2 separate regions of the Homo sapiens genome follow, and region 1 is linked to region 2. The links come from fine-mapping of genetic effects on plasma protein levels. A gene starts in region 2. The other region holds a variant in brackets. All regions are shown on one strand. Distances are from middle to middle.

What was found. A credible set is the group of variants that fine-mapping cannot tell apart. PIP is the chance, under the fine-mapping model, that this variant and not a neighbour inherited with it causes the effect. The UK Biobank Pharma Proteomics Project read protein levels with antibody pairs (Olink). The fine-mapping took linkage between variants from a reference panel, not from the people measured, so its PIPs are less certain.
Region 1: its variant is the best candidate, but not a certain one, in a credible set for the plasma level of the RIDA protein (UK Biobank, PIP 0.71).

Annotation. Positions count from the first base shown.
Region 1 is chr8:98,103,270-98,108,648 of GRCh38, reverse strand. RIDA (reactive intermediate imine deaminase A) reads left to right here. Exons shown (of 6, transcript NM_005836.3): 2 at 1-3; 3 at 2,323-2,377; 4 at 2,643-2,711; 5 at 4,105-4,160. Among named protein-coding and RNA genes, the nearest start is that of RIDA, 11 kb to the left of the region's middle. The variant T/G (reference allele first, on the strand shown) is at 2,255.
Region 2 is chr8:98,114,946-98,120,324 of GRCh38, reverse strand. RIDA (reactive intermediate imine deaminase A) reads left to right here and starts at 3,154. Exons shown (of 6, transcript NM_005836.3): 1 at 3,154-3,293. The coding sequence starts at 3,229. It overlaps POP1 (POP1 ribonuclease P/MRP subunit), which reads right to left and starts at 3,032. Exons shown (of 16, transcript NM_001145860.2): 1 at 2,935-3,032. RefSeq lists enhancers at 2,760-2,929, 3,000-3,049.

The DNA of each region.
Region 1 (5,379 bases), 12 kb after region 2:
CAAGTAAGTTATTTTCCACATTTAAGGTTCCCTTTTCTACTACCTTTTTAATGTTGAAGAGCATTAAGAATCCACTTGCCTGATTTGTTTTATAGAGATTAACAGATAAATGTTTTTTAAACTACTTACTGCTTGATTTAACATAGTTTTTGATCTAAGAGTTGGAAATTTGATGGATCATGAATCATCTAACAACCAAAAGAGAGATTCCACCTCCTTAACACTAAGGTGACCTTAAACCTGAATTATTGACGTCAGATGACATGTTGCCACTTCCACATGGATTGGGAAATTTTCTTCTCAGGGCCACTGACCTGCCCCTCTTCAAAAAAAAAAAAAAATTACCACCACAGAAGTAAAAAGTCAACATTTTTAAAAATAAGAATGGGGAATATAATTTTAATCCAATAAATATAATTAAACCATAATTTAGGCCAGGCACGATGTGGCTCACACCTGTAATCCTAGCACTTTGGGAGGCCGAGGCTGGCAGATCACTTGAGGTCAGGAGTTCAAGACTAGCCTAGACAACATGGTGAAACCCCATCTCTACTAAAAATACAAAAATTAGTTGGGGGAGGCCAGGCACAATGGCTCACACCTGTAATCCCAGCACTTTGGGAGGCCGAGGCGGGCAGATCACCTGAGGTCAGGAGTTCAAGACCAGCCTGGCCAACATGGTGAAACCCCGTCTCTACTGAAAATACAAAAATTAGCCAGGTGTGGTGGCATGTGCCTGTAGTCCCAGCTACTCGGGAGGCTAAGGCATGAGAATCGTTTGAACCCGGAAGGCGGAGGTTGCAGTGAGCTGAGATTGTGCCACTCCACTCTAGCCTGGGCAACAGAGCAAGAACCCTGTCTCAAAAAAAAAATAGAAAAAAAAAGTAACCCAGTCAGGTGGCACATGCCTGTAGTCCCAGTTACTCAGGAGGCTGATGCAGAAGAATCGCTTAAACCTGGGAGGTGGAAGTTGCAGGAAGCCAAGATCGTGCCACTGCACTCCTGCCTGGGACACAGAGCAAGACACTGTCTCAAAAAATAAAATAAAATAAAACAATAAACTATAATTTACTGCATTTACTGAGTCATATAATGCTGAAAGTTTGTTTTGTTTTGTTTTGTTTCTTGAGACAGCCTTGCTCTGTCGCCCAGGCTGGAGTGCAGTGTCGTGATCTCAGCTCACTGCAACCTCTGTCTTCCAGGTTCAAGCAATTCTCTTGCCTCAGCCTCCCAAGTAACTGGGACTACAGGCACACGCCACCACACCTGGCTTATTTTTTGTATTTTTAGTAGAGACGGGGTTTTACCGTGCTAGCCAGGATGGTCTCGATCTCCTGACCTCATGATCCACCCACCTCAGCCTCCCAAAGTGCTGAGATTACAGGCATGAGCCTCCACACCCGGCCTAGCTGAAAGATTTTTAAAAACCTAAATATCCACTCATAAAGAACTGGTTGAATAAATTATGCTAGATCAATACAACTAAAGTAATGTGGAAAGATCTCCGAGGTAAATTGTTCCATGGTAATAAAACCAAGATGCAGAACAACATGCACAGTATGCTACCATGTGTGCTTGTGTGTTTAAAAATATGTAACATAAGCATTGACTGTACCTAGAAGGATATACAATAAATTAGGAACAGTGGTTACCTCTGAGGAGGGAAACTTGGGAGAGGGAGAGAGGGGTGAGAGATATCTTTACACGGTATATGCTTTTTTAATAGCTTTTGAGTTTTTTTGTTGTTGTTGTTGCCATATCCATGTATTACCTATTTAGAAGATTATTTTAAAAGACACAAGAATATAATGAAATATTGCATTGTGACCAGCAAAGTGGGAAGAGTGAATCCAAAAAAAGATAAATGTTTTTCCAGAAGCCAGTGTCTCCAACTGTTATATAATTTACTAATATTGTTTTTTTGAGAAAAAGGAAAAAGAACCCTTTGAAGTCAAATATTGCTTTAAAAGAAAATATGTTTTAATGCTTACTAGCTCATCCTTATCCTTGACGTGATATCGAATGAAGAACACCAGAAATTATTTCTGTGGACATTGGCTGAACAATTAACACATTTTAGCACTGAAGAAGGAACTTCAACCTAGTCTTTTTACGCACAAAAGGAGACAACATTTTCACCATATATCAGAAAGACTCATTCTATTAAAGGAAAGCCAAGAAACACACTTGTAAGCGAGTAGGGAGGATTTTTCTGCAACATAGGCTATTTAAGGAGGTATTAGTAAAAGATGAT[T/G]AATTGAATTTAATTAAAGCTTTAAATCTAACATCAGTGACTTAGGCCTTTCTTGGCTTGGTTCACAGGCTCTTAAAAACATGGGTGAAATTCTGAAAGCTGCAGGCTGTGACTTCACTAACGGTGAGCAATTTGATATTATTTCACATTTCTTTTTGATATTTCTTTGGTCTTTTTGAAAAATATATGGCATCCAGTAAGATGCCGTGCCATATCTTTGTTGCTATTTAAAAGTTGTTTTAAATAGCAACTGTTCTACTTCACTTCTTTGGTCCCATTTCAGTCCCATTTTAATCAAGACAGTCTCAGATTCATACACTCTTTTTCTAAGTAATGTTTTGGGTCAGACCAAATAACTAAACCTAATGACAATGTTTATATCTTCTAGTGGTGAAAACAACTGTTCTTCTGGCTGACATAAATGACTTCAATACTGTCAATGAAATCTACAAACAGTGTAAGTAATTTGGCTTTATTCCTATTTTCCATTTTTAAAAAGAAAGAAATCTGGTCACATTAATGAATGTGCATTATGAATTAAGAGTGGTAGGAGATGCTAAAGAAATGGTCATAGATCTTAAAAGAATTAATAATCTGATTGGAAATATGTTGTATACCCCCCATGAAAAAGTTCTAAGACATTTCTATTGCATTCCCTAAAACAATATACTGAAATCCTACATATCCATTTTTCAAAAGCTTAATTTCATTAAATCCTTCTCAGGCTTTTTAAACTCTCCTAACAAGTTTTTTATGCATAGATTTTATTTACTGTGGCTGTATGGTGCAGCCACCATCTTTATCCTGGCTCTCTCAGACTCATTAGTTAGTTACTTAATATTTCTATGCCTTGGTTTTCTCATATGCAAAATGGAGATAATATACTCCTAACTTATAGGGTTGTTGGAATGATTAAATGAGTCAGTACAACATGTAAAGCACTTAGATGCTGGTGTGTTATAAGCACTGAGTAAATGTTAGCTATTATTAACATTGATGTTATAGTAGGGAAAATTGGTGTCCCCAACACCTAATGGGATGAGGCAAAGGTATAACTTGGAAAAAGCATCGTTACTTATTCTCTCCTGAAGAAATTATTAGAAAAGACCAAAGTTGGCAGAGGAAGTACTTGCCAAAATTTCTGGAGATGGGCACTTGTTCCCTATTTAGATAAATAGTTTATAAATATCACTTTAAAAACAAAACTCCATTCACATCAAACAAGATCAAAATGTTAGGGTATGTATTTCTTTTTTTTTTTTTTTTTTTTTTTTGCCAGAAAGCTAAGAGATTTTAAAAAGTATTAACTATCATAGGAATCATATGGCAAAATATTTTATCAAACAAATCTGATAGTGAGCCTCTTTTTTAAAATGTTGCTTAAGGCCAGGAGCAGTGGCTCACACCTATAATCCCAGCACTTTGAGAGGCTGAGGTGGGTGGATCACTTGACATTAGGAGTTTGAGACCAGTCTGGCCAACATGGTGAAGCCCCGACTCTACTAAAAATACAAAAATGAGCCAGGCATGGTGGTGCACACCTGTAATCCCAGCTACTCGGGAGGCTGAGGCAGGAGAATCTCTTGAACATGGGAGACAGAGGTTGCAGTAAGCTGAGATCGCATCACTTCACTCCAGCCTTGGGCGATAGAGCAAGACTCTGTTTCAAAAAAATAAAAATAAATGTTGCTTATATCTAAGAACTGACTAGTATATGAAATATTTGCCAGATTATTAATTGTAGATATTGAATAACAATAGAATATCTGAAAACTAAAATAAAAATTTTCACTTGATCTTTATTTTTTCAACTCTTCTCTATTAAAAAAATGAAATTCTTTTAAATTCAGATTTCAAGAGTAATTTTCCTGCTAGAGCTGCTTACCAAGTTGCTGCTTTACCCAAAGTAAGTACACTTTAAATGACTAATGTACACAGTTTTCAGTTTCTACATTGTTTTCCTTCTATAAGTAAACTAAGCACTGTGAAAGGAAACTTAAAAGAAGTAGCCTGGGCAGGGTGGCTTACCCCTGTAATCCCAGTGCTTTGAGAGGCCAACACAGGAGGATCGCTTGAGGCCAGGAGTTCTAGACCAGCCTGGGCAACATAGCAAGACAGCCATCCCTACAAAAACAATTTAAAATTAGCCATGCATGGTGGTGGTGCACACCTATAGTCCCAGCTACTTGGTAGGCTGAGGTGGGAGGAACACTTGAACCCAGGAGTTCAAGGCTGCAGTGAGCTATAATCGAACCACTGTGCTGCAGCCTGGGTAACAGTGTGACCTTGTCTCTTAAAAAAAAAAAAAAAAAGAAAAGAAATAGACCCTGCTTCCCCAGGGACTTAAAGTCTGAAAGGAAATATCCCATATTACATGCATGAAAAAAAAATTAAGAAACCTTTTAAGACAGCACATGAACATAGAATCAGAATCAAAATACTTAAATTGTGAGAAAAGGCCAGGCGCGGTGGCTCACGCCTGTAATCCCAGCGCTTTCGGAGGCCGAGGCGGGCGGATCACAAGGTCAGAAGATCGAGACCATCCTGGCTCACATGGTGAAACCCGTCTCTACTAAAAATACAAAAAAAAATTAGCCGGGTGTGGTGGCGGACGCCTGTAGTCCCAGCTACTCGGGAGGCTGAGGCAGGAGAATGGCATGAACCCAGGAGGCAGAGCTTGCAGTGAGCCGAAATCGCGCCACTGCACTCCAGCCTGGGCGACAGAGCGAGACTCCATCACAAAAAAAAAAAAATTGTGAGAAAAAATAAAATAGCAGCTGTACTGTTGTAGTGTTACTTAGGGGACTATAAATTTGAGCCAGGTTTGTTTGTGAGTTCTGCAGTAAAAATTTCACCTGGATATTGTACAATTAAAAATCTAAGCCTTCCACTAGAAAAATAATCTCTAAACCAGGGGCACACATATTTCTCACCATTTTGATTTTGCTACTTTTAACTCAAAGCTTAGCAGCACAATATTCCTGCCTATAAAAAAGCAGCTCTTACTGACTTCCACTTGCAGTTTCTACTAAAGAAAATTTATGTTTTAAGAGTGTCATTTGTATTGCTTTAATTAGTTGTTACTTGGAATGATCATTATCAAACCTATTAAGGTACTGGGTGTA
Region 2 (5,379 bases):
CACTGTCTCACTCCACTAATTTCAACTAAATGAAAGACAGCTATATCTACATGCAAAAACATTTTTCAAATTAAACAGTATGAAGGAAGTAAATGGAGTTCTGCAGAACTGGCTGGCTAGTGAAGCACATGATTCAGATCGGTCTGCATTAAAAGCCATTCCAAATATTTTACAAAACAACTTAGTTAACCTACTGTTACCTGCTTGAATCAGAACTCACCAGCAAGGCTAGACAAGAACACCATAGAAACTCTAGCTCCCCTCAGTATTAGAATGGTCCAAGAAAAGGTTGGTGCTGGAGGATTAGGATAACCTTGGGAACATCCCTGAGCTTTGGGTCCAGACTAAAATATGAGGAAATCAAACTGGCAGTGGTCCTCTAACAGCAGAAGGGAATGAATATAGGATGCATCTTTATGAAGTCTGAGGATTTAATTTAAAAGTTTCCAGAGGCCTGGTGTGGTGGTTCACATCTATAATCCCAGCACTTTGGGAGGCCAAGGCGGGAGGATTGCTTGAGCTCAGGAGAAACCAACCTGAGCAACATAGTGAGAACTCATCCCTACAAAGAAATCAAAAAATAAGCTAGGCATAGTTATGAGCTTGTGGTCCCACCTACTCGGGAGGCTGAAGTGGGAAGATCGCTTGAGACAGGGAGGTCAAGGCTGCAGTGAGTGAGCCTTGATCACATTACTGCACTCCAGCCTGGGTGACAGAGCAAGACCCTGTCTCAAAAAAAAAAGTTTCCAGAAGGAATCTTAACTCTTACCTTCACCTTCAAGTCAGTTTTGTCAAACTTTAATAAGCACTAAATATGTGCTGCCTTTATAAAAATATTTTCGCCAAATCTTCAAATAAAATGGATACGTTATGTTTTCTGATACAGCTTAGTATCCTCTGGCCAGACACAACCTTTGGTGTTAGTTAGTTCCCAGTTTGAGAACCTGGGAACTAACTAGATGATGTCTATTTTCTTCCAGATCTAAAAAGTTGGTGATTCAGACTTGATATAAAATCTGTCTTAAGAATAAAGGTACCTTGTTTCACAAGAAATATTTTACACAAGTTGAATCATTTGTAATGCTCCAAAATAGCTTCTTATTTAAAAACTTAAATGGTGAATTATTTTGTAAATAAAAATATGTCTTAATTATCTAGTTTAATCAGATTTAATAAACTTTTGGGCACCTACTATGTGCCCAATAGTTTCAGGCTGTGTATAATTCCAAAGTAGAATAAGAATTTTGTCATCTTAGGCAGCATTGAGAACTTGATGTGGCAGGCACTATTCTACATGACTTATTCATTTAATTCTCACAACTCTGTGGTCACTAGTATTATTCTCATCTTATAAATGAAGAAATCGAAGCACAGAGATTTTATATACCAGTCCAAGGCTACTAAGCTTGTGATTGTGCTGAGATTCAAACCAGGCAGTCTGACTCTATCCACTATTCTTTTTTTTTTTTCCACCCCTTCCCTCTCCAATCCACTATTCTTGAAACACATAACAATTAGAAAATAGGATCTCATATAATAAAATACTAAATTATGCGGTACAGCACAATAGGAAACAGGACAAGGGAAAGAAAAAAAATGAGGCCGGGCATAATGGTTACACCTGTAATCCCTGCACTTTGGGAGGCTGAGGTGGGAGAATTGCTTGAGCCCAAGAGTTGGAGACCAGCCTGGCCAATATGAAGAAGCCCCGTCTCCACAGAAAATACAAAAATTAGCCGGGCGTGCTGGTGTGCACTTGTAATCCCAACTACTTGAGATGCTCAGGCTGGAGGATTGCTTCAGCCCAGGAGGTCAAGGTTTCAGTGAGCCAAGATCATGCCACTGTACTCCAGCCAGGGTGACAGAGTGAGATCCTGTCTTGAAAGAAAGAAAACAAAGAAAAAGAAAAGGAAAGGAAGGAAAGAAGAAAAAGAAAAAAATGTGAATTGGTAGGAAAAGTCAAAGAGAAAATAGAATTTCAGTTAGCTGGAATTTGCACAGATAAGGAAGAAAGAGTATTCAGGAATCCACAGTGTGAATACAGGAGGACTCTAGTGGGAAAAGGGAGTAGATGACAATGAAACTTGAATAGGCAAGGGGAGGCCAGACTGAAAGGTCTTTTATTCCAGGCCCCAAACCAATGAAAAAGATCAGAAGGTTCCTGAGCCGGAAGTAGGAAGGCCAAAACCTTAGCAGTATGTAGGACAAAATGAGAGGGAATAAAGCAGATTTTCTTGTATTATCTTTAGGAAGCAGGGAAGGCAGAGATTTTATTATTATTTTTTTTAACTGTTGCATTCCTCCTAGCATCTAGCAGAGTGCCTTACACAAAGTAGGGACTCATATATCTATGAGTGCCCGCATAAATGAAGAAACGAAGCGTACTTACAATGCAAATATTAACAGGATAAGAAATATTTAGCCAAGTACCACCCCTTCTGACACAGCAGAATACTTACAAGGGATCTGGGCCATTCCAGATCACCATCTTTCTTTCTGAAATGATATCCCAATCACTAGGGCTCTGTTCAGACAGTGACCTTGTAAAGCCCGAGGAGCACCCTAGAGAAGGGAACACAGGAGGAGCAGGAAAGGGAACACGGGAGGACCAACGCCCAGATCTCAGCGTGGTCGCCAGAATGACCCATATTAGTCATTTGGGGTTGCAGAAGAGGGGATGCAAGCCCATTCCCAGGACGGCCTCCACCCGGCGGGGCAATGAAGGGAAATGACTGACGTAGGGGGCTCCAGCGCAGGGGCCGAAGGAGATGCGACACCAGGGAGAGGGGCCCCGGGCACAGGCAGCAAGGAAAGAGGTCAGCGGAGTCTGAGAGAGAAACGATGAAGAGGGGAGACGGGCGCCGGGAGGGGGGCCGCCGCATACAGTTCCCCCGACACTCGCATCCTGGAAGGCACCAGCCCCTCACGACCAACCTGCCAGACGCTGTGAGGAATCCCCGGGTCAGAATGACAAGCCTCCGCGACAGTACCCACCGAGCCAAAGCTCCTGGAGAGCGCGCTGGAGAGCGCATGCGCCAGACCGGGCGCTTCCTCCACGTGGCCTGGAGCGTCGCCGAAACTACAGTTCCCAGAATGCCGCACGAGCCCGCCCCCAGCGGGAGCTGTGGGGCAGAGGCGCTGCTGTGGTTGGTCAGTCCAGTAAGAAGCCAGCAGGGCTGGTGCTGGGGCTTCTTCTCCTGAAGGGGCTGCAAGAGGGAAGGCTTAGCCATGTCGTCCTTGATCAGAAGGGTGATCAGCACCGCGAAAGCCCCAGGGGCCATTGGACCCTACAGGTAACGTGGCTGGTGGAAGCTGTGTCGGACCCAGGGCGTGCGGGTTCGGGGATTCGGGGTTGGGGCCACTCCGGGCCGGAGCCCCAGCTAACACGCAAGGAAATTGAGCCTGGAAAGTAAGCAACGCGCCCGAAGACCCACAGAGAGTTGGGAGCCACGATGGGACCAGGAACCTGCACTCCATGGGACTTTGCTCGTTCTGGGGCTGCCTCGCTGCGGAGCACAGCCTGCCAGAAAGCTCTCCCCAGTTAGAAGCCTTCAGACCCTGTGTTTTGTTTTGGGGGAGGGGGTCGTTTTTGTTTTCTTGGTAACAGCTTTATTGAGATATAATTCACGTACCGTAAGATTCACCCCCTTTAACATGTACAATTCAGTGGTTTTGACCATACTCACAGAGTTGTGCAGCCATCACCACTTTCTTCAGAACATTTTCATCACCCCAAAAATAAATCCCATCCCCATTAGCATTCACTCCCCATTCTCCTCTCCCCCGGCCCCTGACAATCTACTTGCATCTTCATGGATTTGCTTGTTGTGGACATTTCCTATAAATTGAATCATAAAACATGCAGTCCTTTATGACCAACTTCTTTCATTAGCTTCATACTTGGTCTGCCTCTCTCCCAACTGAAAAGAGCCCCATCAACAGCTCCCTCCTTTAAACCTACTGCTGTGAGAAAAGGCACTGAGATGTGGCAGAACAGGAATTATTATAGAAAACTTGGAAATAAATAAAATGCAGTAGAAGTGAGAGGGCAAGTGGGGTAGGGAGTAAAGGAGAAAAAAGACAAATTGATTTTAACTTGGGGTGGAAGAGGAAAAAGAAGATTTAGGAAGGTTCCTTGTGAGAGGTAGTCCTTTGGTTTTGAAGGTTGGTTTTGTCATTTATAGTAGTGTTGTAAAGTTTGATTTTTAAATTAATTTATTAAGGATTTCAACAGGAAGTCATTGAGTGAAGGGCATGGAGGTAGAAGTCAGGTAGAGGGAATGGCTTGAGTGAGGGCATGGAGGTAGAAGAATGCATGGTATAAAGATTTTGGGGAGAAAGTTTTCATAATTCAAGTGCTACTTCTGTCTTTTTTGTTTGTTTGTTTGCCAAATCTGTATATCACTTATAATTTACTTAACCTATTTCTTTGAGATGGCTCACTTCATTTTATTTAACAAGTTAATTGAAAAAGGAAACTTTACAACAGTACACTAAATAGAAAACAATTCAATAGAAAGTAATAGTAAAAAATAAACTCAATTAAAAAAAGGTATTATTAAATTTTAGCTAGATATTGCAGTTGGCTCAAAACCTGAGGCCTGCTCTCTCTTTGTTAAGAGTGATGTTTCTTTAGCCGGGTACTGTGGTTCACGCCTGTAATCCCAGCACTGTGGGAGGCCGAGGTAAGAGGATTGCTTGAGGTCAGGAGTTCAAGACCAGCCTGGGCAACATAGTGAGACCCCCATCTCTATTTAAAAAAAAAAAAAAGTTTAATTAAAAACTTTCAAGTGATGTTTTAATTTGTTTTCTAAAGATGATTTTTTTTCTCCTTAATGTAATCAAACGGGGTAGAGTCATCATTGCTAACATTTACTGATGCTTACTCAGCAGCATTGGGCACTATCCCTTTTTTTTTTTTTTTTTTTTTTTTTTTGGAGGCAGAGTCTCACTCTGTTGCCCAGGCTAGAGTGCAGTGGTGCAATCTCAGCTCACTGCAACCTCCACCCCACAGATTCAAGTGATTCTCATGTCTCAGCCTCCCAAGTAGCTGGGATTACAGGCAGGTGCCACCACACCCGGCTAATTTTTGTATTTTTAGTAGAGACAGGGTTTCACTGTGTTGGTCAGGCTGGTATTGAACTCCTGACCTAAAGCGATCCACCTACCTCGGCTTCCCAAAGTACTCGGATTACAGGTGTCAGCCACCATGCCTGGCCAGCACCAGGCACTGTTCTAAGTTATTTATGTGCATGGTTATATTATAGTCCCTATTTTTCAGATGAAGAAACTGATGTGTGCAAAATTAAATAATTTGCCAAAAGTTACACCACTAAAAAGTGATGTAACAAAATTTGAATTTAGGAAATGGGTACTAGA